7 linked regions of the Homo sapiens genome follow. The protein of the gene in region 1 purifies or fractionates together with the protein of each later gene. This does not show direct contact. Each region holds a gene or a part of one and is shown in the gene's direction. Other genes may lie near its edges.

Region 1 (4,054 bases):
GATATTTCCTTGTCATAATTCTGTATTCATTTTGCATTACTTTGCTCTCATTTTATTCTTCAATTTTTAATGTTAAATACAATAAAAATTGTGTTTCTTCACAACTCAATGTTGTGAAGGCCATTTCTTCACAATTCAATATTAAATTGACATGCTGTTGCATATGCTTCTAAGTACCCACACAGGGCCTAGACCTCAAGAATTCCATAAGTAACCACCATCATTTGTCTTCATACTGCTGACATTTGCCAAGTATTCACTACCAAGCACTGTAATACTCTGTATCTTTATTTCATTTAATTCCCACAATGGTAATATCATTATTATTCCTTTCTCACAGAGACAGAAACTAAGGCTCAGAGATACTAAATAACTTGACCTACACTGACCAAACAGATCCAAATCTGGTCTGCCTGCCTCCAAAGCTTAGGCTCTGCGACACTGCTATGCCACCCCCAAGCATCTGTTCACTGACTGATCAGAGTCCAAGAGTGCCACTTTTTCAACTGACCCTAAACTGAATTCCCAACTCCTTATGATAATTAGGATTTTCCAAAGTACTGCGGAGGCAAGACTTGATGTCCTTTGGTTTCCACTTTTGTTTCTGTTCTTATCTCAGAGACATAAGTTATTTACTTTTCTCCTTACTTCATGTCAGTGGGTCACTTCAGTTTCAGAAAAAGAGAAGCACAATATTTAAAATATATGGACAGCAGTATCAACAATAAGAACCTTCACAGACAGCGACCATAAGCCATAGGAAGTGAAGGCTGTTTCTAGAGAGTTAAGTCAGAGCTCAGTCCAATGAACCAAACTGCAGTCAGCAAGTACCAGGTTACTTACTTTCTCTTCCTGGAATCAGGCTGCAACTAATTCAGTAACAGGGTTTAAGAGTCTAGAGTTAGACTAAGGACCACAGGATACCCCTCTTCTCCCCTCTATACCCATTATGGAGCTTGCCTCACCTTTCTTGGAAGACCATTGACTAAACCAGAACATTTTCTGGGCTCCGTTTCCATTCACTTTCAATTCTGTGTATGTTAATCATTTAGCCTTAAAAAAACAAACAAACAAAAAGAATCCCTTAGGCCAAGAGAAAATGACTTCCTGGCAATTCAATTCACTTCCCAGGGGTGAGAGAAGAGAGGAGAGCACTCTTCCTAACAGACCCTTCTCATCCAGGTTGATGGGGCAAGGTTCAGTCCCTGTATAATAGGTTGGAACACCTGGCAAGACTCATCCTTTAGCATCAAATGGAGTCTTTACCTCCTCCACTCCCCTAGCCACCTTTTTCCTTCTTAAGAAGGTTTGATACTTACTTCGCCACTTATATCTGAGGTTATGTCAAGGTTTAAAAAAAATACAGTCAACTTAATATTGCTGTGAACTTGCCCCTTGGGGAAGGAGGGAAAGGTATGCATGTGTATGTACAATTTTTTTTTTTTTTTTGCATCCAAAAAGGTCCTAACGTAAGGCTTATTCCCATTCCACAAGCCTTTGCTTCCAAACAGAAGTATTACCTTTCTTGTTTCTACATCCAGAGTATTGATATACTACTCTGGGGTAGAATATTTATGGGTATACTCGTGGATTGAATATTTATCACCTGGATTTCATTCAAATCCCTCTGTAAGTACCTCTATCCTGTTGACAAGGCCCCTTGTACATTTGGGTTTAAAGGCAAAACCAAGACAGTAAAGTGAGCCCAAGGAGAGCTAGGCTGCCCAGAGGATGAGTTCCATTCTTAGAATAAATTAGGTCCTTTTGCAGCTTGCATTGTTCTTTGGGGCACTCACTAGGAAACTGTTCAATATGAGAGAGCCAGGCTTACCTTGCAGACAAGCACATGCTGAGGCCTATTGTGGCCCCCAGAAAGTGAGATAATAAAGAACAGGAAAGACCCTGGTAACATTTCCGGCAAATTAGCTGGCCTCCTAATAGCCTGAGTACCAAAGAGCCAGGGAATAGGGGCTGGCTGGGAACTAACTACAGATTTTGATCCCCTAATTTATGTAGATAAGAGAAGCAAATAAGTTCTCATTTGAGTCAGCGAACAGTCTGGATCTTCCAGTGATTTGAGTGTAGACGAATAGGAATATGTCCTACTCAGGTGTATTAAGAGATAGCTGGATCAAGATGGGAGAAGGAAAAGGGTCGAGTTGATGCCAGCTCTGTAAATTATTTTCACTTAACAGCAAGGCTTAGTCTCAGGTGCCTTCCTCCCCACATTCAGGTTGTGGCAAGATGGTTTCCCCAGTGAGCCATCCAACTCTAGTAATATATATACAAGTTGTTATATTCATTTACAGTAAGCAGCATTAACCCTTGAGGTTAGCCTCAAGGGCAGGTATGATGTGAGAAGAAAAAAAAAAAATCTCAGGAAGAAACTCATCATTTCTACCCTGCACAAAGACAGTGATGTATTTGCTATACTGGATCTGAGATGTTGATTCTATTTCTTTTTGTATTTTTCTAGCTCTGAGCTTCATCCAATTTGCAACAAATCTATTTTAAGGCAAGAAGTTGATTATATGACTCAGGCTAGGGGTCAGAGATCCTCTCTGGCAGAAGACAATGAGTCCAGCTACAGCAGAGGATTTGACATGACGTACACTGAGTTTGACTATGACTTATGCAATGAAGTGGTTGACGTGACCTGCTCCCCTAAGCCAGATGCATTCAACCCATGTGAAGATATCATGGGGTACAACATCCTCAGAGTCCTGATATGGTTTATCAGCATCCTGGCCATCACTGGGAACATCATAGTGCTAGTGATCCTAACTACCAGCCAATATAAACTCACAGTCCCCAGGTTCCTTATGTGCAACCTGGCCTTTGCTGATCTCTGCATTGGAATCTACCTGCTGCTCATTGCATCAGTTGATATCCATACCAAGAGCCAATATCACAACTATGCCATTGACTGGCAAACTGGGGCAGGCTGTGATGCTGCTGGCTTTTTCACTGTCTTTGCCAGTGAGCTGTCAGTCTACACTCTGACAGCTATCACCTTGGAAAGATGGCATACCATCACGCATGCCATGCAGCTGGACTGCAAGGTGCAGCTCCGCCATGCTGCCAGTGTCATGGTGATGGGCTGGATTTTTGCTTTTGCAGCTGCCCTCTTTCCCATCTTTGGCATCAGCAGCTACATGAAGGTGAGCATCTGCCTGCCCATGGATATTGACAGCCCTTTGTCACAGCTGTATGTCATGTCCCTCCTTGTGCTCAATGTCCTGGCCTTTGTGGTCATCTGTGGCTGCTATATCCACATCTACCTCACAGTGCGGAACCCCAACATCGTGTCCTCCTCTAGTGACACCAGGATCGCCAAGCGCATGGCCATGCTCATCTTCACTGACTTCCTCTGCATGGCACCCATTTCTTTCTTTGCCATTTCTGCCTCCCTCAAGGTGCCCCTCATCACTGTGTCCAAAGCAAAGATTCTGCTGGTTCTGTTTCACCCCATCAACTCCTGTGCCAACCCCTTCCTCTATGCCATCTTTACCAAAAACTTTCGCAGAGATTTCTTCATTCTGCTGAGCAAGTGTGGCTGCTATGAAATGCAAGCCCAAATTTATAGGACAGAAACTTCATCCACTGTCCACAACACCCATCCAAGGAATGGCCACTGCTCTTCAGCTCCCAGAGTCACCAGTGGTTCCACTTACATACTTGTCCCTCTAAGTCATTTAGCCCAAAACTAAAACACAATGTGAAAATGTATCTGAGTATTGAATGATAATTCAGTCTTGCCTTTGAAGGGTATGTCACAAAGAGCTGACAGTGCTTCTACACATTTCATCTAATTTAATATTCCTGGCATACCTTTAAGGTAAATTGGTCAGGAACTATTAATTCCATGTGATACATTAGGAAGCTGAATTATTAGTAACAACAATAATAATTAAAGAATGCAATACTGTATTACATATTTTATCCTTATATATGTTATTTTTGCACGTTATGTTCAAAGTGCTTTTGTTCAGATATCTCAAGTGATCCCTGTTAAATAAGCAGGACAGGGATTATTCTTGGAGTTTTACAAATG
Region 2 (4,725 bases), on another chromosome or scaffold:
ACAGTGGGCTCCATGGAAACCGGCACAGGGAGGAGGGGGCCTTATCTAAAACAAACCCACAGTTACACAAACAAGAGAAGCAGCGATTTGCACTTGCCTAGAGACATACCCACAGCTGCATAACATAAGGGGAGCTGCACAGGCAGTTTTACTGGTAAGAAGTTACTCAGTTACCAGGAGGAGAGCAGTGTCCTATAAAAGTTTTTTGCGGCCAGGCACAGTGGCTCACGCCTGTAATCCCAGCACTTTGGGAGGCGGAAGGAGGCGGATCACCTGAGGTCAGGAGTTTGAAACCAGCCTGGCCAACATGGTAAAATTTCGTCTCTACCCAAAATACAAAAATTAGCAGGGCGCAGTGACGTGTGCCTGTAATCCCAGCTACTCGGGAGGCTGAGGCAGGAGAATCATTTGAACCCAGGAGGCAGAGGTTGTTGAGGTTGCAGTGAGCCAAGATCGCACCATTGCACTCCAGCCTGGGTGACAAGAGCAAAACTCTGTCTTAAAAAAAAAAAAAAAAAAAGCTTTTTGCATTCAGCTGTAACCCGACAATCCACTCGGACTCCCGTCTCCACTTTGGAGAGCTTTCTTCTTTCCCTTATTAAACGTTCGCTCCAACCCCACCCTTGTGTCCACGCTCCTTAGTTTTCTTGGAGGTAGGACAAAGAACCCCGGGACTAGTTCAGACAAGGAGAAACTGCTATATTAAGGTGCACTGGCAAGACCGCAACAGTATCAAGCCAATTAGACTTGCCGTGGCTCCTGGAATGGCCCACGCACTGCACTGGCACCAAGACACCACCCAACCCTGGACACTGCACTGGGACAGGAGGCCTGAAGAGAAGAATCCTCTCAAAGGAAGCTTGAAGTACATGCTACAAAATAAACTGGCTTCTATACTCAGGGCCAGCTTCATGGGCTCACTCAGAAGGTCCCTGGCTTGCTGCAACCATTTGCTCTGACCATCTTGAAATTCTTAATAGTTTTCTGGGTTTTTTAGTAAGTGTCCCCACGTTTTCATTTTGCATTGAGTCACACAAATCATGTAGCTGGGCTGTCTTCAAAAATGTCAAGGTAGTAAAAGACAAAAGGCTGAGGAGCCTTCCAGATGAAGAGATCAAAGAGACATGACAACTAAAAGCAACTCCTGGGTTACAGGGTCAGGGGCGGACAAAAAGGAAAAGAAAAAAAAAGACATTAGAGGGACAATTGAAGGTTAGCTGTGGATGACATCACAGAAATGTCAATGGGAGTTGTCCTAATGATATTTGCCCTGTGGTTAAGAAAATGCCCTTGTTCTTAGGAGATTCATGGCGAGGTATGGGGTAAAGGATCATGACATCTGCAATTTGGTTGCCATTGGTTCAGGAAAAAAAAAAAACAAAGTACAAATGATTGAGTAAATCAGGCAAGCCTAAACCACTGCTAAACATGAATAACAGTTCTACGAGAGTTCTTTATGCTCTCCTTGCAACTTCCTGTAGGTTTGAGATTACCTGGAGATAAAAAGTTAACATCACCAGCACCGCCCGCCAGCCCGCCAGCCGAAAAGAGCGCAGGTAATTCAGTCCGAGCTGAAAGCGGCCACCCTGGGACTTGAGTCACGTGAGGCGAGCCCACATGACCCGAGGCCCCGGTCCAATATGGCGACCTCCACGGGTCGCTGGCTTCTCCTCCGGCTTGCACTATTCGGCTTCCTCTGGGAAGCGTCCGGCGGCCTCGACTCGGGGTGAGTGCAGCTCCCTGGGCCAGCCTGGTTCGGGGGGTCCCCCCTGTCCTCCGAGCTCACGAGGACAGCCCCCTGAGCTCACGGCCGCCCGTCCCCGCAGGGCCTCCCGCGACGACGACTTGCTACTGCCCTATCCACGCGCGCGCGCGCGCCTCCCCCGGGACTGCACACGGGTGCGCGCCGGCAACCGCGAGCACGAGAGTTGGCCTCCGCCTCCCGCGACTCCCGGCGCCGGCGGTCTGGCCGTGCGCACCTTCGTGTCGCACTTCAGGGACCGCGCGGTGGCCGGCCACCTGACGCGGGCCGTTGAGCCCCTGCGCACCTTCTCGGTGCTGGAGCCCGGTGGACCCGGCGGCTGCGCGGCGAGACGACGCGCCACCGTGGAGGAGACGGCGCGGGCGGCCGACTGCCGTGTCGCCCAGAACGGCGGCTTCTTCCGCATGAACTCGGGCGAGTGCCTGGGGAACGTGGTGAGCGACGAGCGGCGGGTGAGCAGCTCCGGGGGGCTGCAGAACGCGCAGTTCGGGATCCGCCGCGACGGGACCCTGGTCACCGGGTGAGGAGGCAGGGAGCCCCGTGCTGTCGAGGGCAGAGGGCCTGAGATTTGGGTTGTAGCCGTGCCTCCGTGTTCAAGTCACTTAACCAAGCTGAGCCCCTGTTTCCTCCTCTGCAGAATGGGGATAGGAATCGCTTCCTTGCAGAGTTTATTCATCATCCAGTATCATTGAGCACTTGCTTGTATCAGGCAATGTGCCGCGCCCCGGTGAGATAGCCGTGAACAACACAGTCTTTGCCTTAACAGCCCTCCCCCATTACTAGAAAAATCAACAAAAGCCGGGTAAATAGCTAACATACATTCTGATTGCTGTGTGTGCAGCAAAGCAACCAACGGGGTGAACCCGTTGTAAATAGTGTTGATTTTAGGGAGGGTGATCTGGAACACGCCTCTCCGAGGTGACCTTTGAGTGGGAACTTGAAGATGAATCACTAAGTGAGCCAAGGTCAGAACTGGAGGAAGAGCGTTTCAGTCCAAAGGAACCCCACGCACAAAGGCTCAGAGGCTCAGGGGGGCTTGTGTGTATGAGGGACTGAAAAAGGAGTGGGGTGTCAGAAACATCAACTCATCAAGACTGATGATTTTTTTTTTTTTGAGACAGAGTCTTGCTCTGTTGCCCAGGATGGAGGGCAGTGGCATGATACCGGCTCACTGCAACCTCTGCCTCCCGGGTTCAAGCGATTCTCCTGCCTCAGCCTCTGGAGTAGCTGGGACTACGGACGTGTGCCACCACGCCCGGCTGATTTTTGTATTTTTAGTAGAGACGGGATGGGGTGGGGAACGGGGGAGTGGGTTCACCATATTGGCCTGGCCGGTCTCGAACTCCTGACCTCAAGTGATCCACCCACCTCAGCCTCCCAAAGTGCTGGGATGACAGGTGTGAGCCACCACGCCCTGGCAAGATTGATGATTTGAATTATTTAAAATTATCTTAAAAATTATTTGAGTCTCAAAAAAAAAGTATTTGTTGATGATAAAGCTTGTTCTGATCCTGAGTGGGACCAGGTGGGAGAGAGCAGTGGAGAAACAAGGAAGCCAATGAAGGGCCGTAACAGGGATCAAGTGGTAGTTGGGCTGGGTATGGCCTGGGGATTGAGGGCCATAGATGGATTTGAGCTCTGTTGGGGGATGGTCATTTCTGTTAAATGAAACAGACTGTTTGCAAAGGCTTGTGGGGATTGTATTGTCAGAACCCTGTCCAGCTTCAGCTCTGACAACAGGGAGATTCCTAGGGCTGTTAAGTTGTCCCAGCTACACTCAGGCCCCAGGAGGTTCCTGGGGCATGAGGGGGAATCTAGCAGCCAGGTTGGGATGGCTAGGGAGAAAGAGCCTGACTATCTGCAGTTGCCCCTGCTGGTGAGTGAGCTTCCCACCTTCCCCGGATCCAGGTACCTGTCTGAGGAGGAGGTGCTGGACACTGAGAACCCATTTGTGCAGCTGCTGAGTGGGGTCGTGTGGCTGATTCGTAATGGAAGCATCTACATCAACGAGAGCCAAGCCACAGAGTGTGACGAGACACAGGAGACAGGTTGGATGGGGAGGCTGTTGGCAACAACCCTCTCGAGAACCAGGACCAGTGGGCTGGGCGGAGCTGTTCTTAAGTCTTTCAACAAGTATTGAGCAGCTACTTTGTGCCCAGCACTATTCTGGGTACTGGGGATTCATGGGGAGGAAGATAGGCTTATATTGAATATATAGGACAAAAAATAGTTATAGAATATGCTGAAAAGAATTGATAAGTGCTCAGAAACAAAAATAAAGTTAGGGGAAAGGGGAGAGATGGGGACCGGAGCTGTGGGTACAGGAAGAGAAAAGTGAAGAGAAAAAAATCTTCATGGACCTGCAACATCGGCGTGGCCCAGGAGCTTGTTTCAAAGCCCCACACCCTCAGACCTGCAGAATCAGAGGCAAGGCCCAAGAGTCTATGTTTTAACGGGCCTCCATGGTGACTCTGACCGACACTCAAGGTTGAGAACCACTGGGATGCAGAATACTGGGATGGGGACAGGATACCATGACCATTTTAGAGTGGGCAGTAAGCTAGGTGTGGTGGCTAACACCTATAATCCCAGCACTTTGGGAGGCCGAGGCGGGAGGATCGGTTGAGCCCAGGAGTTCAAGACCTGCCTGGGCAACATAGTGAGACCTATCTCTACAAAAAAAAAAAATACAAAAATTAGCCAGGCATGGTGGTGTGTGCCTGTAGTCCCAGCTACTTGGGAGGCTGAAGCATGAGAATTGCTTGAACCTGGGAGGTGGAGGTTGCAGTGAGCTGAGATCATGCCACTGCACTCCAGCCCGGGCAACACAGCGAGACTCTTTGTCTCAAAAAAAAAAAAAGAGTGGGCGGTCAAGGAAGGCCTCACTAAGGAGGTGATCTGACAAAGGAGCAAGCTAGAGAAAAGCACAGTTCCCAGCCAGAGGGAACAGGAAGTGCAAAGTG
Region 3 (4,054 bases), on another chromosome or scaffold:
ACATTAGAGAGATTAGTCTATACTTCTGTTTTCTTGTTTTATGTTTGCCTTGTTTTATTTTTTCTTTCAGAATTCACCGATGAAGCAACCTAGCTCCCAACTGGGAGGGAGTTTTTTGTGTGTTGGGAAGGAAGGCTTATAATTATGAATTTAATGTATATAATTGATATAACCATGTACACTTTAAAAGAATGTATTTTGCCATTGTTGAGTATAATGTTCTATAAGTGTCAGTTAAATCAAGGTTGATGATGTTGAGGTTGCCTGTGCCTCCACTTCTTTTTTCTAGTTATATTGGTTGCTGAGAGGATGAAGAAACCAAGTTTTACCTCTAACAGCAGCTTTAGTAAAGTTACATTGCAAAGAGACATGCTTATAAGAATAGGAGGAATTTGTTACCATGTTTTATGGTCTACCACTGAGTTCATTTTCAGTCTTTTTTGGGTTTTGTTGGTGGTGGTGGGTTTTTTTTGTTTTTGAGGCAGGGTCTAGCTCTGTTGCCCAGGCTGGACTGTAGTGGTGCAGTCATGGCTCAATGCAACCTCCACCTTCCCAGCTCAAGTGATCAAATCAGGATAACTAGCATAGCCATCACCGCAAACATTTCTTTGTGGTGAAAATATTAAAAATAATCTCTTCCAGCTATTTTGGAATATACAATACATTATTAACTATAGTTACCCTATTGTGCAATAGAACATCAGAACTTATACCTCCTAACTGTAACTTTTTATAGCCACTTCTGATCTCCCCACTCCCCCTATTCTCCCCAGCCTCTGGTAACCACTCTTCTACGTCTATTTCTATGAGATCAAGTTTTTTAGATTCCACATATGAGTGAGATCATACAGTATTTGTCCTTCTCTGCCTGGCTTATTTCACTTAACATAATGTCCTCTGGGTTCATCCATGTTGTCATAAATGACTTTTCTCTGGGGTTTTGTTTTTTGTGGCTGAATAGTATTCCACTGTGTTTGTATACCGCACATTTTTTATCCATTTATCCATTGATGGACTCTTAGGTTGATTCCATAGCTTGGCTCTTGTGAATAGTACTGCAGTAATCAAGGAAGTGCAAGTATATCTTCATCATACCAATTTCATTTTCTTTGACTATATACCCAATAGTGGGATTATTGGATCATTGCTAGTTCTATTTTTAAATTTTTGAGGAACCACTGTACTGTTTTTCATAATAGCTGTAACTAATCTACTTTCCCACTAACAGTGTATAGGAGTTCCTCTTCTTCCACATCCTTGTCAATATTTGTTTTTTTGTTTTTTTTTTTTTTTTTTGTCTTTTTGGTAATAGCCATTTATTTGGTAATATGTGTCTTCTCTCTTGTTTCTTGATCAGTTTAGCCTATAGGCTTACCAGTTTTATTGGTCATTTTATTGAGTCAGCTTTTATTGATTTCTCTATTATTTAAGTATCTGTTCCATTGGTTTCTGTTCTTTATTATTTCTTTGCTTCTACTTTGGGGTTTAATTTCTTAAAATGGGGACTTAGGTCACTAATTTTAGATTTTCCCCCCTATATAAGCATTTAAAACTATAAATTTCCTCTAAAACACTACTTTAGTTGCATCCCACAAATTCTGATTGGTTGCATTTTCATCATTTCATTTGAAATATTTTTGGATTTCTCTTGTGATTTTTCTTTAACTCATGAATTATTTAGAAGTGTGTTGTTTTGCTCTCCAGATATTTGGGGTTTTCCTAGTTACTAATTTGTAATTTAATTCCACTATGGTCAGAAAACATGCTTTGTAAGAGTTCTGTCTTTTTAAAATTACTGATATTTGTTTCATGACCTTCTACATCCTGGTGAACTTACCATGTACACTTGAAAAGAATGTATTTTGCCATTGTTGAGTATAATGTTCTATAAGTGTCAGTTAAATCAAGGTTGATGATGTTGAGGTTGCCTGTGCCTCCACTTATTTTTTTCTAGTTATATTGGTTGCTGAGAGAGGGATGAAGAAACCAAGTTATACCTCTAGCAGCAGCTTTAGTAAAGTTACATTGCAAAGAGATATGCTTATAAGGATAGGAGGAATTTGTTACCATGTTTTATGGTCTACCACTGAGTTGATTTTACTGTTCTCTGTACTTTTGTATATATTGGAAATTTTCTGTAATAAAATCTTAAAAGCCAAACCCTCTCAGGTGATATTATATTCCAGGGAATGCATGTTGAAGCCACAGCATGCTTCACCATGTACAGGAAAAATATTTAGGGTTTCTATTTATGTTTGTTTTTTACATTGTCATTTTAAAAGTTCTATTTTGGCATATGTTTTATAGTGCCAGGCATATCCAATAGTCATAAATAATTTTAAGATATAGATGCATACATATGGGAGAGAATTATATATTATATATCATTGTACTATTCTGGTTTTAAAATAGTAGTTTTACCCTAGTGGAAAATCAGTTTTGTTCCAAAAGTTGTGTATCATTGCATGGTCTTGAACCTTATCTTAAATTTTATATTAAAATAACAATGTTTTTGTGAAATACTCATTTTAAAATGCTTTGTTTCACCAGGCTTTTAATTAAGAGGTGTTTTTATATTCTGAAACTTCTGAATCATGTCAGAACTTAATTAAGGTGATGATTTTCATTTCAGGGAATGCTGAAATTAAAATCTAAAATTAGGTCAGTGGGGTGCAGGCTTAAAAGGAAACAAAAACCAGCTTGTAAAAGAAACAGTGTCTTATGTTCTGTTCCCTGTACATACTTGAAATTAAGAGTATTTACTAATAATCAGTAAAAATTGGGGAGAAAGTGAGGTAATGTAATATTGGCCCTAATTATTGCTACTGAAAACCTTATCTTTTTTTTTTTTTGCATCTGGAATGTTTACTTCAGGTATCATTTGAATTAAGAAAAGCAAAGGGAAAGATATGATTTATAGATAGAAAATAAATTAAGAAACTAAATTACACTAACACCTTACACTAGCCTCTATTCACTTCCTAATCCTACCCCCTGAATCTCCATTCTACTTTTAAAAGCAGAGTAAATAACAAAAAAAAAAAACACATTCCAAATGCAGGTGTTAATTTTTAAACTTTACAGTACTCAGACTTACACTGTTTAGGTTTTCTACCCATTTGCTATCATTAGCTTCCTGCAATTAGAAAAACTTACATTCTAAATTTCAGCTTTGGCAATCTGTATATTAAGAATATATTTATGTTCCTGGATTTGAGAGAATATGTTGTTAAGGGTTTTGTTAAAAGCCTTAATTGTGTACAGCACTTTACATTGTAAGGTGATTAATTGCTGTGTCATAAGGCAGGGATTGGACAAATGTCTTAGGAGATTTAAACACAAATTACGTGTTTTGGCGGGGCTTTGTGTTTTGTAAACCTTTAGGTAATTCAGAATTTGACCACATATCCCATTTCTTGAGCACAGTATGATTAAGATTTTCCTTAAAATAACTTTACAAAATTTGTTAACACCCAAATTAAAGAGCAACTTCCAGTGAGGGTTCTTTTACCAGCGAATATCATTAGGTAGGAAAATTGAATTTCTGTCCAAGTGGGATTTATATATTAAAGCAGTGCAGCCAGTGATATATTTGGATATTAGGGTATTTGGCAAAGTCCCTCATGAGATATCCTTGAAGAATAGGACTTAAGAAATGTGGACTGGAGAATAATACAATTAGACTGATTTGTAATTGAGCGCCATAAACACTAATTGAATCCTTGTCAACAGCTGGGATGTAGCACTCTGCCTGTTTTTTTTTTTTAAATCAGTTGTTTGAATGAGGACACATAGCATGATGATGTTGTTGTTAATTCACAGATGATGTTAATCTAGTATCCACATTCCTGAAAATTGGATGGCAGGTTTATTTAGAAAACAAAATGATCTTGATGGGTTAGAATAGGACATCTCATTAACAATGTAACTTTTTTTTTTTAAATAAAGATGGGGTCTCACCATGTTGCCCAGGTTGGTCTTGAACTCCTGGGCTCAAATGGTCCTCCCACCTCAGCCCTCCTTAGTAGCTGCGATTACAGGTGTGCACCACCAT
Region 4 (4,054 bases), on another chromosome or scaffold:
AATTTATTCTTTTATCATTATAAAATGCTCCTCTTTTATCTTTGGTAATTTTTAGTCTTGAAGTCTGCTTTGTCTGATGTTAATATAGCCACATCATCTTTCTTTATATTTGAGTGTTCATTTGTATATCTTTTTCTATCTGATTGAAATGTTTAATGTATTTCTAGTAAGCAGCACATAGTTTCTCTCACTTTAAAAAAACCTAATTTAGTAATCTTTGCTTTTTAATTGGTATCTGTAGTACATTTACACGTGATATATTTATTATGTGTTTATTGTTAGGCCTTACATCTTGGTGTTTGTTTTATATTTGTCCTGTATATTCTTTGCCTTTCTTTTTCTCCTTTGCTGCCTTTCTTGAGGTTATTTTTTAGTATTTTATCTTTCCTATTTTTTTGAGTGTGTTCTGTTACTTTTTTGATTGATCAGAGATTTTCTTTTTCATTTATCATAGTCCTAATTTAAAAACATTTTACTGCTTCAGGAGCAGTGTAAGAACCTCAGTGTACCTCAGAGCATCCTCTCCTGCCTATTGTGCTCCTGTTGTCATGTATTTTAATTCTGCATAGGCTATAAAACCACAGTACATTATTTCTTCACTAGTCATCAGGCTTCTACACATGTGTGGAATGCACACACACATTCATTTTTAAAGGTTCTTACAATTATTGGCATATTTACTGTCCCGGTGCTCTTCATTTCTTTCTGCAGAACCAGGTTTCTAATATTGTTTCTTTCTGCTGAAAGAAATCATTTTCACAGTTCTTAAAATACAAATATGCTGGAGATAAATTTTCTTAGCTTTTGTGTGTCTGAAAAGATGGCATGATCATGGCTCACGAAATACAGCCTCAACTTCCTGAGCTCATTCATCCTCTTGCCTCAGCCTCCGAAGTAGCTGGGACTACAGGTGAACACCACCATGCCTGGCTAATTTCTTTGTAGAGACTGAGTCTCACTATGTTCCCTAGGCTGGTCTTGAACTCCTGGGCTCAAGCGATCCTCCTGCCTCAGCCTCCCAAAGTGCTGGGATTACAGGCATGAGCCACCACACCTGACCTTTAATCAATTTTGAAAATTCCTGGCTGTCTTTTCAAATATCCTGCCCCATTTTCTCTTCTTTAACAACTCCAGTTATATGCATGTTAACTCATACAGGAATGGCAATTATATTCTGTTGCCTCACAAATCTTATATCCTGTATTCCAGCTTTTTTTTTTTAACTCCCTTTTTTCCCCTTTATGTTTCAGTTTGAATGATTAAGAAGTAAAAGGTAAACTCCTTATTAACACATCCTGAAATAAAAAGAAAAAGCAATTGGTATTTTGGCTATCATAATACTACCATCTTTTATTTTGGAATAAACATTCATTTGTTCAAACTCAGTTCTGCCACTAGTTTGCAGCGTTCATGATAGAAATATTGTTTAAAAACATTGATTGGGACTAAAAAAAGTCTTCATTTTTATTTTTATTTAGTAAATCAGATCTCAAAATAATAAAAGACTTTTGGTATAATAAATTCAATATTCTTTAAGGAAACTATTAGAAGTGTGTTTAGTGTTTTGAATTTTAGCAAAATTTGTATTGGTATTTATGTATTTACATATTTTCTATTAATGTATAAAAACTGGTTGATTGCATTTCTCTTTTATTGAGTAGTTATTTTATTCTCAAATATTTTTTAAAAACTTAGATGAATTAGATTGCTTCTAATTGCTGCTGTTAGTATTGGCTACAATTAGAATGGGACTGAAGCTTTTATGAATAATTATATATTAAAATTATTTTTTCTTATTCATTCCCTCATTTGTTAGAGGAATTTAATGATAGAATTTTACGACCAGAATTATCAAATGATGAAATGCTGTCTCTTCATGAAGAATTGCAGAAGATTTATAAAACATACTGTTTGGATGAAAGTATTGACAAAATTAGATTTGATCCCTTCATTGTAGAAGAGATTCAAAGAAGTAAGTCAAAGACGATAAGAATGACTTATTTAGCACTCTTACAGTTTTTCCATTTATTTTCTGTTTATTATTGCAGTGGCTAGCTGCAGTACATGGGCAGCTATTATTCTATTTTACTAATGAGATGAAAGCTTTAAAGAAAAAACTTATTTATACTTTATGTATTTGTCAGAACTAGAGCTTGGTTGGTCTAATTTCTCAATCTAGTGTGTTTCAGTGGAGTTTCAGTAAAACGTTTTAGAACTGTATATATTTATGCTATTTATAAATAATTTCTACAGTAGAATTTTTTTAATAGTTGCTGAAGGCCCATACATAGATGTTGTGAAACTTCAAACTATGAGATGTCTTTTTGAAGCATATGAACATGTTCTTTCCCTTTTGGAGAATGTATTTACTCCTATGTTCTGCCATAGTGATGAGGTAAGTCAAAATATTAACCTTGTTTGAGGATTTTTATACATAATTTAATAGTAGCTTTGATATCATTAGATGAGTGATTCAAATAACAAAATAAATAGAAAAATAAGACAAGATTACTGGGCACAGTTGCTCACGCCTATAATCCCAGCACTTTGGAAGGCTGAGATGGCTGAATCAATTGAGTTCAGGCATTCAAGACCAACCTGGCCAACATGGTGAAACTCCATCTCTACTAAAAATAGAAAAAATTAGCTGGGTGTGGTGGCACATGCCTGTAATCTCAGTTACTCAGGAGGCTGAGGCAGGAGAATAGCTTGAACCCAGAAGGCCAAGGTTGCAGTAAGCTGAGATCACACCACTACAACTCAAGCCTGGGCCATAGAGCAAGACTCCGTCTCAGTAGAAAACAGAACAAAAAAACCAAGATTAAGAAAGTAAATATTCTTTTTCGCTATGTAATTAAGTGAAGATTAAAAAATAATTGCAAAGGCCGGGTGTGGTGGCTCAGGCCTATAATCCCAGCACTTTGGGAGGCCGAGGCGGGCGGATCACAAGGTCAGGAGATCAAGACTGTCCCGGCTAACACATTGAAACCCCTTCTCTACTAAAAATACAAAAAACTAGCTGGGCGTGGTGGCGGGCACCTGTAGTCCCAGCTACTTGGGAGGCTGAGGCAGGAGAATGGCATCAACCCGGGAGGCGGAGCTTGCAGTGAGCCGAGATCGCACCACTGCACTCCAGCCTGGGCAACAAAGCGAGACTCTGTCTCAAAATAAATAAATAAATGAATAAATAAAATAATAATTGCAAAAACAATTATCAATACCAAAACCTGTTTATATTTGTGTAAGTAGATAGATTGGGACCAAATAGGTCTGCCTGGTTTGCCATATGCCTGAGTGGCTTTGTAGTACTGCAGTGACGCAGAAATCTCATTGTATACACGTTATTTACAAACCTGTGGAAATCATCTGCATTTGCAATATTTTCATCCTTACCCTAGTTGACCATGTCTGTATTCACTTGATTGAGATAGCTTTTTTTTTTTCCCAAAACTGGAAAGTAGTAAACTAAGGTAACATGTTTTAATGTTAATTGTAAGTGTAATAAATGATAATTATTATTTGTTATTTTAAAGTATTTCAGACAACTTTTAAGAGGTGCAGAATCACCAACACGCAATTCAAAATTGAACAGGTAGGTTGTATGTTTTGTTTTTGAACTTGCTGATGCCAGTCATTCTATGATAGCATCATTGTCTTTATTAGCTATTTTTCTGAATGAATATGTGGTTCCATTGTTATATGAGTTCACAAGGCATTTTACTAGTGAATTGTAGAACTGTATTCTATATGGTGATCTGAAAATGCCTGAAATTCTTTTAGAAAAATTTTAACAAGATACATAATGTGGCCTTGTTAATCTCATAATGAATATATATTAGTTTTGATTACCAGCTTTATTGGAGACTAGGGACTGAATGCATAAGTGGCATCCACAGATAACTCAGAATTAAACGTTTTAGAGAAAACTTTTTTTTAAGAGTGCTTACTGGGTACAAAAGTGGAGGGATGTTTATTTCTTTCTTTTTTTTGGCTCTGGAAATCTAAGTGTACAGTTAAATGACCTAAAGAAAGGTAATAGAAGAGAAAATCTTTA
Region 5 (4,704 bases), on another chromosome or scaffold:
AATCACTTAAACACATACCAATCAGGTTTTTGTTTTCATCATTCCAAAGTAACTTTTACAGCCAAGGACAGTAGCGAACTTTACATCGCATATGCATTGTGAAGTTCTTGATCCTCATCTTACTTAACCTGTCAGCAGTATCTGACACAGGTGTCACTGGCTCCTCCCTGAGATGCTCTCTTTATTTGGCTTTTGGGACACCATATTCTCCCCATTCCTACTTTCCTCAATGGCCCTCCTCAGTCTCCTTTGGAAAGAGGAAAAAGAAACTTCATTATCTCCTGGATGTAGTACAAACAACTCAAGCTCAACATGTGCATACTGAACTCCATTTCCTTTTCCCAAACTTCGACATTTACAGCCATCCCCTTTCAGCTGATAGCAAGTTTATCCTTCCAGCTACTCAAACCAGAATCTTTAGAGCCATCCTTGACCCTTTTCCTCCTCTCACACTCAACATCTATCCATCAGAAAATTTTGTTGGTTCTACTTTCAAAATGCATACAGAGTCAGAGCATGTCTCATTACCTCCAATAGCTACCATACTAGTCTGAACAAACATCATTTCTCACCTGGGTTATTGAACAAACATCATTTCTCACCTGGGTTATTGATAGCATCCTAACGGGTCTTCCTGTTTCTTGGTTCCCCTATATTAGCAACACAGCAGTCAGAGGAGTCCTTTTAGAACTCAATCAGATCATGTCACGTCACTCCTCTACTTAAAATCCTTCAATGGGTCCCATTACACAAAGAGTACAAACCAGAGCCCTTACACTGGTCTACAAGTTCCAACATTTGACTCCTGTTATCTCTCTGACATCATATTCTAATATTACTGCTGTTGTCCTTTTGCTCCAGTCACACTGTTTGATTAGTAAATATTTATTAAACAAAGCAATCCTAGTCTCCAAAGAGATCATAGTTTATTGGAGGAAACAAGAGCCTATAAATGGTTACACACAGAAGGTAGTGATTATGGTTCTCCCTCACCTCCCATCCTAAACTTTGACAGGTGAAACTCCCCTGGATGTTGAAGGTTGAGGAATTTGCCAGGGTTCAGGGTGGTGTTGGAGGAGGCAGGGAGGAAGCAAGGACATTTCAGGCAGGAAGAACATTACATGCAAAGATCTAAAGATATGAATCAGCAACATATTTATGGAATTACAAGTAAAGTAGAAAGTTCTTGCTAAAACATCAAAAAATAAAGATTTGTGATTAGGGGGCCAGAATGTGGGAGGGAAAGAGAGATACAGTTCACACTTTAGACAGGAGCCAGATCATGAAATGTTTTCTCTTTGTTTGTTTCTTCCTTCACAGCTTTTGATATGCTCTTGGAGCAATTTATTAACCATATTTTTTAATGCATCTCCTGAACAGAGTCAAAGCAATACTTGGAAAGGACTCTGAATTTCCTGATTTAAAGATACAAAAGAAAAATCTGGAGTCACAATTAATTTGAGAAGGTAAAGGAGTGGGTGTGCTACTGTATCAAATTTAATTTGTACAAAATCATCATCTCTAGTAACATTATTTTTTCTAATCTACTGCGTTTAGACTACTTTAGTAAAGCTTGATCTCCCTGTCTATCTAAACACTGATTCACTTACAGCAAGCTTCAGGCTAGCATTGGTCATATTAATACCCAACAAATCCACAAGGTGTTAGTTGCACATGATTTTGTATAAAAGGTGAACTGAGATTTCATTCAGTCTACAGCTCTTGCCAGGCAAGGCAGCCGACCACAGGTGAGTCTTGGCATCTACCGTTTTCAAGTGGTGACAGCTACTTTTGAAATTACAGATTTGTCAGGACATGGAGGACAAAACTAGAGCTTCTCACTACTGTTGTGTAGGAAATTTATGCTTGTCAACCTGGCTTGTAAAATATGGTTAATATAACGTAATCACTGTTAGCAAGTAACTGACTTTATAGACCAATATGCCTCTCTTCTGAAATGGTCTTATTTTAAACAAATGTGAGCAAAAGAAAATATTTATGAGATTCTAAAAATGAAGACATAATTTTGTAGTATAGAATTTTCTTGGCCAGGAATGGTGGCTCATGCTTGTAATCCCAGCACTTTGGGAGGCCAAGGTCAGAGGATTGCTTGAGCCTGGAAGGTTGAAGATGCAGTGATTCATGATTATACCACTGCACTCCAGCCTGGGCAACAGAGCAAGACCCTGTCTCAAGAAAAGAAAAGAATTTTATTTTTCTTTTCAGACAAAAATAGACTTTAAAATAATAATGGAAGAACAAATATGATGATCACAATTATCAGAGTAATTACTTTATGACAGTCAGCAATAAGATTCTAATCTTTAAATATTCCTCTGCTTAAATCATTATATTGGAGTTTTGATCTATAATATATTCCCACCCTGACCCAAAAATTGAAGAAGGACAAGGAAAAATGTTGTTCCAAGAAACAAAGATGTAAGTAAAAAGGCATAAGGAAGGAAAAAAAACTTTTGAAGCAAAATGTGATTGAGGAGGATGAGCAGACCAATTATTTTTGGTTTGGTCAGCTTACATAATGATTATCGTTCTTTGGTTTCTCAGTTTCTAGTGGGCTTCATTGTTTGCTTCCCAGACCAGGATGAAGACACTCCAGTTTTTCTTCCTTTTCTGTTGCTGGAAAGCAATCTGCTGCAATAGCTGTGAGCTGACCAACATCACCATTGCAATAGAGAAAGAAGAATGTCGTTTCTGCATAAGCATCAACACCACTTGGTGTGCTGGCTACTGCTACACCAGGGTAGGTACCATGTTTTGCTGGAAGCAAGGGTGTTGAAGGTCTGTATTAGGCCGGTTTCATTAGTTTCTACTTTATCAATATTTTATGTATTCTAAGTAACAGCCATGAGTCCTTTAGCCAAGACTGTCTGTGTTGTGATTGGGGTTAATGACCACGATATCACTTAGATGTTTGGGCTTGGATTTGATTTGGGTAAATTTAGGAAAGCCTCAGATTTAATCTGATCAATTTGGTACTAGTCCAACTTTGCATCTACAGGGAAAAAGTATTTCTATGTTACGTTTTTACACATAGAGAGATAAACATGGAAACATACATATATTTAATCATAAAGGACCTATAATATTCTCATAAAGGCAATTTCTTTAACTGACACTACATCTTTGACACAAAATCACACCAAAATATGTCTCCAAGTCACATAAAAACATAGACAGCCACTTAAAAAAATTGTCTTCCTGGCCCTACTAAATACAAATGCCAAAAAACAGCCTGAGAACACAATCAATTCTTGCAGACTGTTAGAACAAAAATGAATCAGCAAACCCACTCCCTTCGTTATAGCATTGAGAAAACCAAGACATAGAGGCATCAGTTGCTAGTCTGTGTTTGCAGTTTCCTTGCATTAATACAAGTAGAGAAATAGTTTCCATGGTGCTTTCTTTTTTCTCTGCAGCACCCCTAATTATCTATGCAGAATTTCATTCTATAAACTAAAATTGAAAATGGCAACTTTTTAAATGAACGATACTTTATTTGACGGTAAATGAGTTTGATCAAACTCCATTTATTACACAATTTATTGCACCTTCTTGGGATATACATTTGGTAGGATGATATTAAAATAAACAGAAGCCCCAATTTCTCTACGCAGTATAAATAATTTTTCCACTGGAAAGTGCTACTACAAATAATTTCTACCTGGATTAAAAATTCTTATATGCAAACTGCATATCCTTTGAAACTAGGAACCCTGCAAAGTATACAGCTTTCAAGGGAGAAAAATGTCCACAAGGAGTTGGAATATTTAAAATCTTATGTTAGCCTTAGCAAACATGTTAACTTAAGCATTAAAATTTAAAATTATATATTTTTGACCTTTTATAAATACTCAGGGCAGTGTATTTTAAAATATTTTTTCTGAGACATTGGATATCTTTGTTTATGGTTTGTTATTAATACAGCTTTCAATTAAATATGAAAAGTCAACTTAAAATCCTGTCATGTTTTTCATCATTTTTCTATGCTAAAATTCAAAGTTCCTTTATATTTTGAAAAATAGTTAATATTTTGATATAGCCATAGGAAGTAAGAAAAGAAATTACTTGTATTTTCTGGAAGATTTCAAGAACAATTTAGAAATGTAAATAGCATATAGGTCATTTATGAGGTCATGTTTTAATGGGTAAATGTTAGAGCAAGCAGTATTCAATTTCTGTCTCATTTTGACTAAGCTAAATAGGAACTTCCACAATACCATAACCTAACTCTCTTCTTAAACTCCTCAGGATCTGGTGTATAAGGACCCAGCCAGGCCCAAAATCCAGAAAACATGTACCTTCAAGGAACTGGTATACGAAACAGTGAGAGTGCCCGGCTGTGCTCACCATGCAGATTCCTTGTATACATACCCAGTGGCCACCCAGTGTCACTGTGGCAAGTGTGACAGCGACAGCACTGATTGTACTGTGCGAGGCCTGGGGCCCAGCTACTGCTCCTTTGGTGAAATGAAAGAATAAAGATCAGTGGACATTTCAGGCCACATACCCTTGTCCTGAAGGACCAAGATATTCAAAAAGTCTGTGTGTGTGCAATGTGCCCAGGGGACAAACCACTGGATCAGGGGATTCAGACTCTACTGATCCCTGGTCTACTGGCAGAGGGAACTCTGGGAATTGAGAGTGCTGGGGGCCAGGACTCCATCATGATTCAGCTCTATATTC
Region 6 (4,054 bases), on another chromosome or scaffold:
ATGGAAGTTTTTTGGTTTTGCTTTTTTTTTTTCATTTCTGAGAGTACTATTTATAAAAAATAATGGAAAAAAACTTAAAAATCTGCCTAAATAACTTGGCCATCACAGAGAGAGCAGGCCATATTAACTACATGATTTAGTGTTTCAGGTAATACGATCTGGGTTTCAGATATGACCAAAATCCTGGTTATGAACATGGGTGTATGATACTGTAGCCACAGGTAGCATCTGCAGCAAAACTAGCCTGAACTGAGATGTGTTTTCAGTGTTAAATACATACCAAATTTCTAAGATTTAGGATGTAAAACATCTCACTAATTTTTTAGGTTAATCACATGTCTGGTAATATTTTAGATATACTGGATTAAGTAAAATTAATTTTATCTGTTACTTTTCACTTAATGTGGCCGCTGGAAAAACTTCGATGACATATAAGGCTTCCATTACATTTCTAAGGGACAGCACTGCTTTAGAGCCAGAATGTCTCAGTTTATTCCTGGCTTCGGCATTTCTTAGTTATGTGACCTTAAGCAAATTTTTGAGCCTCTGTACCTCAGTTTTTTCAGCTGTAAAATGAAAGTAACTATTCACACCCTCCACTGTTGTCATGAGGAATAAATGTCATGAGGAATAAATGTGCTAATATATGTAAGACATTTACAACTCACTGGCACATGAAAAGTGCTCAATGAACGTTAGCTTCAAAAAAGGTAACTAGGACTATAGCAAAAATTAGGATATAGCTTCTTCCATTCATTAAGCCCATCCTTTTCATTTATTATGAACCTTATCTGAGAATTAAGTTCTTATTAATAAAACCTGTTCTTTCACTATGTCCTGGACCTTTTACAGAAATGGGCTCATGGTTCTTATAATCCTATTGGTCCTGGAATAATTTCCACCAAAAAGATCAAAGGAAAATATATGTAAAAGTACTGTGAAAAACCACAGCACATCAAAGTGAAAAGAAAAACTACAGAATGGGAAAAAAGTATTCACAAATTCTATCTAATATGGATGTAGTACACAAAATATACAAAGAACTCTTATAAAACTCAACAGAAAGACAACCCAATTAAAAAATGGACCAAGGACTTGAAATAGACATTTTTCCAAAGATCATATACAAATGGCCAATGAGGACATGAAAAGATGCTATGTGTTACTAGGGAAATGCAAAACAAATCCACAATGAGATATGTCACTCCATATTAAGATGGCGTGCGCACGCATGCACACTGTCTCACAGATGTTTATATATATATGATATATATGATATATATATGATATGATATATGATATGATATATGATATATATATGATATATCATATATATGATATATATGATATCGATATCATATATATGATATATATGATATATATATGATATATATATTTAATGGAAAATAAGCGTTTAGCAAGGATGTGAAGAAACTGGAACCCATTGCTGGTGGGAATATAAAATGGTTCAGCTGCTGTGAAAAAATAGTTTGGCGGGCTCCTGGGTAGTTACCCAAAAGAATTAAATACAGGTGTTCAAACAAAAACTTATACGCAAATGTTCATAGCAGTCCTTTTCGTGATATCCAAATGGTGGAAATAATACAAATGCCCAACATCAAATGAATGGATCAACAAAATGTGGTAGAGTTGAGCATTCCAAATCTGGAAATCTCAAATGCTCCAAAATCTGAAACTTTTTGAGTGCCAACTTGATGCTCAAAAGAGATGCTCATTGGAGCATTTTGGATTTTGGGATGCTCATCCTGGTAAATATAATGCAAGTATTCTAAAATCTGAAAAAAAAGCTGAAATCCAAAACAATTTCAGATACAGGATACTCAACCTGTATATATATATGATGGAATACTATTTGGCCTTAAAAAGGAACAAAGGACTGATAAGTGCTACAACATGGATGAATGATGAAATCATTGTGCTAAGTGAAAGAAGCCAGGTACAAAAGGCAACATACTGTAGGGTTCTGTTTATATGAAATATCCAGAGTAGGCAAATCCATAGAGACAGAAGACAGACTAGAGATTGCCAGAGGGTGGGAGGAGGAATGAGTAACTGCTTAATGGGGATGGAGTTTCCTCTGGGATGATAAAAATGTCCTGGGACTAGATAGTGGTAATGGCTGCACAAAGTTATGAAGACACTTAACATCACTAATGATAAATCTGACGTTATGCATACGTCACCACAGTAAACATACCCCTGCAGTGGAATAGGTTCTGAGACCATTTAGAGGTCACACAGAAAATTAGAAGATTTAAAAAGAAAAATTGATTCCCAGACAAGGTGCCTGAATAGGAACAGCTCCAGTCTGCAGCTCCCAGTGAGACCAACACAGAAGGCAGGTGATTTCTGCATTTCCAACTGCGGTACCCAGCTTATCTCACTGGGACTGGTTAGACAGTGGGTACAGCCTATGGAGGGCAAGCAGAAGTAGCGTGCGGCATTGCATTACCCAGGAAGCACAAGGGGTCGGGGAACTCCCTCCCCTAGCCAAGGGAAGCCGTGAGTGAGGGACAGACCTATCCAGCCCAGATACTAGGCTTTTGCCACTGTCTTTGCAGCCCGCAGACCAGGAGATTCCATCGAGTGCCTACACCACCAGGGCCCTAAGTTTCAAGGACAAAACTGGGCGGCCATTTGGGCAGACACTGAGCTAGCTGCAGGAGAATTTTTTTCGCACCCCAGTGGCGTCTGAACCTCAGCGAGTCCCAACTGTTCACTCCCCTGGAAAGGGGGCTGAAGCCAGGGAGCCAAGTGGTCTTGCTCAGTGGATCCCATCACCACGGAGCCCAACACACTGAGATCCACTGGCTTGAAATTCTCACTGGCAGCACAGCAGTCTGAAGTTGACCAGGGATGCTCGAGCTTGGTGGGGGGGAGGGGCATCCGCCATTACTGAGGCTTGAGTAGGTGGTTTTCCCCTTAGAGTGTAAAGAAAGCCATCAGGAAGATCATACTGGGCTGAGCCTGCCGCAGCGCCATAAAACTGCTGTAGCCAGACTGCCTCTCTAGATTCCTCCTCTCTGGGCAGGGCATCTCTGAAAGAAAGGTAGCAGCCCCCAGTCAGGGGCTTACAGATCAAACTCCCATCTCCCTGGGACAGAGCACCTGGGGGAAGGGGTGGCTGTGGGCGCAGTTTCAGCAGACTTAAATGTTCCTGCCTGCCAGCTCTCAAGAGAGCAGCAGGTCTCCCAGCACAACGCTTGAGCTCTGCTAAGGGACAGACTGCCTCCTCAAGTGAGTCCCTGACTCTGGTGGTTCCTGACGGGGAGACACCTCCCAGCAGGAATCGACAGACACCTCATACAGGAGAGTTCCAGCTGGCATCTGGTGGGTGCCCTTCTGGGATGAAGCTTCCAGAGGAAGGAGCAGGCAGCAGTCTTTGCTATTCTGCAGCCTCCACTGGTGATACCCAGGCAAAGAGAGTCCGGAGTGTACCTTCAGCAAACTGCAGCAGACCTGCAGAAGAGGGGCCTGAAGGAAAACTAACAAACAGAAAGCTATAGCATCAACATCAACAAAAAGGATGACTACACAAAAACCCCACCCAAAGGTCACCAGCATCAAAGACCAAAGGTAGATAAATCCACAAAGATGAGGAAAAAGCAGCACAGAAAGGCTGAAAATTCCAAAAACCAGAATGCCTCTCCTCCTCCAAAGGATCACAACTCATTGCCAGCAAGGGAACAAAATTGGACGGAGAATGAGTTTGAAGAATTTACAGAAAGAGGCTTCAGAAGGTGAGTAATAACAAACTCCTCCAAGCTAAAGGAGCATGTTCTAACCCAATGCGAGGAAGCTAAGAATCTGGATAAAAGGTTATAGGAACTGCTAACTGGAATAACCAGTTTAGAGAAGAACATAAATAACCTGATGGAGATGAAAAACACAGCACGAGAACTTCGTGAAGCATACACAAGTATCAATAGTCAAATCGATCAAGTGGAAGAAAGGATACCAGAGATTGAAGATTAACTTAATGAAATAAAGTGTGAAGACAAGATTAGAGAAAAAAGAATGAAAATGAGTGAAT
Region 7 (4,054 bases), on another chromosome or scaffold:
AAGATGCGTGGGAGGCTGCTGCTGCTGCCTAACTTCTAGGCCTCTTTCTGATGGCTATGGCTTCCATCCTGCCTCTGCCCCCTGAGTAGCTGGGACTACAGGTGTGCCTCACAGCCTGGAGCTTTCACAGCCAGATAACTAAAGGGGCCAGGCTAGGGCTTATATAAGAGAAATTTGGGAGGATTGAGATAAAGGGGATAGTCTTCTTGATCATCCAAAACAGCTCATCTACCTTCAAGTTTTTCTTTGGCTCTGCTCAGAGCTGGCTCAGGCCCCTGGGTACTGGACCTTTCAGTTCCCACTTTTTCAGGGGATTAACTAAGGCACCGTAAGATGCAACTCTCTAGAACCCTGTTTAAAGGCCCTGGGATTTAGTTGCCCCTAGGAAACCAGCCTTGTCTGGTTCCCTCTTCCCATAGGGTCAGTGTTCACAGCACTGTGAGGCAAGGTCAAGAGCAGAGGTGATGTGAAAGTTTCTTGTTCTCTCTACCTTTGGGCCCATCTCCCTGGGTCCAGCTACTCTGTGTCATTGGCTCCAGGGACCAGCGCATCAGCCAGGACGTGGAGCGATTCTGCCGGCAGCTCAGCAGCATGGCCAGCAAGCTCATCATCTCCCCGTTCACCCTCGTCTACTACACTTACCAGTGCTTCCAAAGGTGAAGCCTCCCTCCTCCCCAGCCTGGTGTTTCCCCAGAGGGCCCTCAGTCAGCTCTCCCAGGTCAAGGTCCAAGAGAAGCTTATTTCCCCTCTCTCCCACCGTACCTTACCACGTGCTCACCCATCCCACGTGCTCAGGCCCCTGCCCTTCCTTTGGCCCTGTGTTGCAGTGTCACAGATATCCTGGCTCTGAGAGCTCATACCAGATGCCCCCACATAGGAGCAGAGGGCCCATTGGGCCACTCAGATTGGACAGGGGCTACCTGAGAGGGAACAGGAGTCAGGGCTGAGGCATGTGGGGATAGGTGGCACCCCACACCCTCTCCCTTCTCTCCCTCTCTCTCTATTTCAGCACAGGCTGGCTCGGGCCTGTGAGCATCTTCGGGTATTTCATCCTGGGGACCGTGGTGAACAAAACTTTGATGGGCCCCATTGTGATGAAGCTGGTGCATCAGGAGAAGCTGGAGGGAGATTTTAGGTGTGTCTCCCTCACTTGAGGTTTCTGGGCTGGGGCATAATAGTTAAGGAAGGGGATCTGGAGTAAAACTGCCTAAGTTCAAATCCTAGCTGTGCCAGTTACTAGCTGTGTGATCTTGGAGAGGTCTTTAACCTCTCCAAGCTTCAATGTTCTTGTCTCTAAAGTGGAAATGGTACCGTTGCCTACTGAGAGGATTAGGAGGATTAATGAAATCATACCTGAGAAGGTCTGAGAACCGTGTCTGCCTGGCCATCACCATCGTCATTGTCATCTCTTGGCCTTCTCACTGCCCTGGCATAACCGCCCTGTCTTGGATCAGTTGGGTGTGGCAGCCAATGGATCCAGTGCCTGCCCTGTGCTTCTTGTCCCCCTCCTTTGGGCCAGGCCCTGGGAGGAGGAGATGCTGTGAGCAGGAATACCCCTGTCCTCTCTGCAGAAAGCTGAGGGGCAGCCCTGTCTCTGCAGAGCTCCTGCCACACCACCTAGCCCTGGGGTTTTCTACCCCATAACAGTCCAGGAAAGGGTCAGACTGAGGCAGCCACGGTTTTGAGGCAGAGCCGGGCTCCGCTTGGGCGGTCTTTGTGATCCAGGACTCCAACAAGAGTGAGGCCAGTACTCCCTGTTGTCAGCACACATTTCCCTTTGGTCCGCCCAGGTTCAAGCACATGCAGATTCGGGTGAATGCGGAGCCTGCTGCTTTCTACAGGTGAGTCTGGAGAGATGGTTCCCCTTCTGCCTTGCCAGAGCTGAGAGTGGAGAAGGAAAGATGAATCCTCAACCCTCCCACCACCACCGAGCTCAGGGGCTGAGTGTTGTCACACTTGGCTGTGACCCTCTCCCTCTACCTCCCCCTGCCCTTGCCTGCCTCATCCTTAGGTCCAGGGGTTTGCTTCTGAAGCTGGTGGTTCCTTACTGTGGCCAGCTTTAGTCTTAGTGGCCTAGCGTGGGGCCTGAAATTGTCAAATGAATGAATGCCTCATCCTCTTGCTGGTGACTGTAAGACATCCGTCTGCCTCTGCTCTTCTGTCTGTTAAGAAGCTTTCTTGCCAGTGCCTGAGGTTCAAGCCTGATCCTTTGTCTCCGTAGCGTGGGATGGAATGGGAGCTTCTCAGAAAACCAGGAGACCTGCTCCCCACAATGCTGTCTAATGGAGCCAAGCGTCTGGTCTCCTGACGGCAGCAGCAGGAGCAGCAGCAGCGGCATGAAATCCCATCCCTTCCCTCCAGGGCCAGAACCGGTCCCTGTGCTCTGCCTTATGTGAGGCCTCTGAAATCAGCGTTAGGATTGATAGTGCAGGCAGAGGTTTGCGTTTAAGAAGTGGAAGCTACTCCTTGGCTCTGTACTTGGGGTGGATGTGATAGCCCTGGGACCTTTGCTCCTCAGTCTCTGCTGCAGTTTGCAACCTCCACCACTTGAGGGCACCAAGAATACTGGGAATCTGCGCTGGGGTGGGGTTGTGAGGTGGGCAGGGCTGGGTGTGTAAAAAAGTTGCTTTTGGAGGCCGGGCATGGTGGCTCATGCCTGTAATCCCAGCACTTTGGGAGGCCGAGGCGGGTGGATTGCCTGAGGTCAAGAGTTCGAGACCAGCCATGGCCAACATGGTGAAACCCTGTCTCTACTAAAAATACAAAAAATTAGCTGAGCATGGTGGCGGGCACCTGTAATCCCAGCTACTGGGGAGGCTGAGGCAGGAGAATCACTTGAATCCGGGAGGCAGAGGTTGCAGTAAGGCAAGATCCTGCCATTGCACTCCAGCCTGGGTGACAGAGCAAGACTCCGTCTCAAAAAAAAAAAAAGAAAAAAGTTGCTTTTGGATTCTGCAGCCTCTGCTCATGAAGCTCTGGGGAAGGCAGGTTAGTTTGTAGAGTTTCAGATGAGTTCTTCTGTGGCCTCTGTGCAAAATCTGAAATCTCCCTCCACCTTTTCTGCCTAGCGAATTTCTTCCCATCCTTGAAACCCCAGATCACCTCCTCTGGAGAGCCTTCCCAGACTCCCTTAATGGCTAAGCCTATCTGCTGCCATGGCCCTGAGGGCACACTTAGTACTCCTGATTCCAAGTGAAGAATGCAGTGTGCCTGCCTGCCCTCTGGACTGAGAGCTCCTCAAAGACAGAGATAATTTTCTCATTTCTTTATTGCACTAGCTAACTAGTGCAATGCCTGGTACACCTAGTGACCGCTCTGTGTATGTTTATTTAACAATAGTTTTTATTTATTGAGGGCTCCTTATGTGCTTGGCACTTTATATTTAGAAACTTTTAATTCTAACTCTAACCTATTACATAGGTATTATTGGCTCCATTTTATAGATTAAAAAAACTGAGGCTTGGAGGCTTAAGTAGCCTGCCTGTGTCACGCAGCTAGTAACTGGCCAGAGCCAGGATTTGAACTAGGTCTGCCCAACTCTAGAGTTTATGTTCTTCACACAGACAATACCATTAAGGCATGACTGAAGCCGTGAATGGGCGCTACCAGTAGACAGATCCTGAGACCAAGATCATTTGAATGGCCTTGGTTTCTAAAGGAGGGTGTGATATGGGACAGGCGGCCCCCCAACCTGGCTGAACCTCTCCAGCCCTGTGGACATCCCAGCCTTTCCTTGTCAGAGCTGGGCATGTGGAGCACATGAGGACAGACCGCAGGCTGCAGAGACTCCTTCAGACCCAGAGGGAGCTGATGTCCAAGGAGCTCTGGCTGTACAGTAGGCGAGGGGGCCCAGGGAAGTGGGAACCATGGGGTTGGACTGGTCTGCTTCCCTTCCCACACCTCTCTACCTCCTGTCTGCAAGGATAAATGTGCCATGATGAAGGAATTAACCGGGGATGAGGAGGGGGGGCTGTTGCCTTTCTGTGAGTATCCTCAGGAGAATGAGGATCCAGAGAGTCCACGTGGCCCTACTTGGCGTCCTGCTCCCTGTCTT

The links.
Region 2: the proteins of FSHR (region 1) and NAGPA purify together in Homo sapiens (affinity purification with mass spectrometry; 2 studies listed by BioGRID and IntAct, with this or other methods). This does not show direct contact.
Region 3: the proteins of FSHR (region 1) and PDZD8 purify together in Homo sapiens (affinity purification with mass spectrometry; 2 studies listed by BioGRID and IntAct, with this or other methods). This does not show direct contact.
Region 4: the proteins of FSHR (region 1) and SNX14 purify together in Homo sapiens (affinity purification with mass spectrometry; one large-scale study listed by BioGRID and IntAct). This does not show direct contact.
Region 5: the proteins of FSHR (region 1) and FSHB fractionate together in Homo sapiens (co-fractionation; one study listed by IntAct). This does not show direct contact.
Region 6: the proteins of FSHR (region 1) and APPL2 purify together in Homo sapiens (affinity purification with western blotting, with the first as the bait; one study listed by BioGRID). This does not show direct contact.
Region 7: the proteins of FSHR (region 1) and ABCD4 purify together in Homo sapiens (affinity purification with mass spectrometry; 2 studies listed by BioGRID and IntAct, with this or other methods). This does not show direct contact.

What each region holds. Positions count from the first base shown.
Region 1 is NC_000002.12:48,962,389-48,966,442, reverse strand, and holds part of FSHR (follicle-stimulating hormone receptor isoform 1 precursor), read left to right. Parts: intron 1-2,476; coding exon 2,477-3,710; 3' UTR 3,711-4,054. UniProt on the Homo sapiens protein: G protein-coupled receptor for follitropin, the follicle-stimulating hormone. Through cAMP production activates the downstream PI3K-AKT and ERK1/ERK2 signaling pathways.
Region 2 is NC_000016.10:5,030,830-5,035,554, reverse strand, and holds the start of NAGPA (N-acetylglucosamine-1-phosphodiester alpha-N-acetylglucosaminidase precursor), read left to right. Parts: upstream 1-1,619; 5' UTR 1,620-1,640; coding exon 1,641-1,726; exon of another isoform or gene 1,727-1,826; coding exon 1,827-2,282; intron 2,283-3,670; coding exon 3,671-3,810; intron 3,811-4,725. UniProt on the Homo sapiens protein: Catalyzes the second step in the formation of the mannose 6-phosphate targeting signal on lysosomal enzyme oligosaccharides by removing GlcNAc residues from GlcNAc-alpha-P-mannose moieties, which are formed in the first step.
Region 3 is NC_000010.11:117,291,570-117,295,623, reverse strand, and holds part of PDZD8 (PDZ domain-containing protein 8), read left to right. Parts: exon of another isoform or gene 1-2,160; intron 2,161-4,054. UniProt on the Homo sapiens protein: Molecular tethering protein that connects endoplasmic reticulum and mitochondria membranes. PDZD8-dependent endoplasmic reticulum-mitochondria membrane tethering is essential for endoplasmic reticulum-mitochondria Ca(2+) transfer.
Region 4 is NC_000006.12:85,541,523-85,545,576, reverse strand, and holds part of SNX14 (sorting nexin-14), read left to right. Parts: intron 1-1,816; coding exon 1,817-1,972; intron 1,973-2,270; coding exon 2,271-2,395; intron 2,396-3,533; coding exon 3,534-3,592; intron 3,593-4,054. UniProt on the Homo sapiens protein: Plays a role in maintaining normal neuronal excitability and synaptic transmission. May be involved in several stages of intracellular trafficking. Required for autophagosome clearance, possibly by mediating the fusion of lysosomes with autophagosomes.
Region 5 is NC_000011.10:30,229,301-30,234,004, forward strand, and holds the start of FSHB (follitropin subunit beta precursor), read left to right. Parts: upstream 1-1,713; 5' UTR 1,714-1,748; exon of another isoform or gene 1,749-1,778; intron 1,779-2,565; 5' UTR 2,566-2,602; coding exon 2,603-2,761; intron 2,762-4,269; coding exon 4,270-4,500; 3' UTR 4,501-4,704. UniProt on the Homo sapiens protein: Together with the alpha chain CGA constitutes follitropin, the follicle-stimulating hormone, and provides its biological specificity to the hormone heterodimer.
Region 6 is NC_000012.12:105,183,948-105,188,001, reverse strand, and holds part of APPL2 (DCC-interacting protein 13-beta), read left to right. Parts: intron 1-4,054. UniProt on the Homo sapiens protein: Multifunctional adapter protein that binds to various membrane receptors, nuclear factors and signaling proteins to regulate many processes, such as cell proliferation, immune response, endosomal trafficking and cell metabolism.
Region 7 is NC_000014.9:74,292,935-74,296,988, reverse strand, and holds part of ABCD4 (lysosomal cobalamin transporter ABCD4), read left to right. Parts: intron 1-539; coding exon 540-656; intron 657-1,009; coding exon 1,010-1,135; intron 1,136-1,790; coding exon 1,791-1,841; intron 1,842-3,740; coding exon 3,741-3,835; intron 3,836-4,054. UniProt on the Homo sapiens protein: Lysosomal membrane protein that transports cobalamin (Vitamin B12) from the lysosomal lumen to the cytosol in an ATP-dependent manner. Targeted by LMBRD1 lysosomal chaperone from the endoplasmic reticulum to the lysosomal membrane.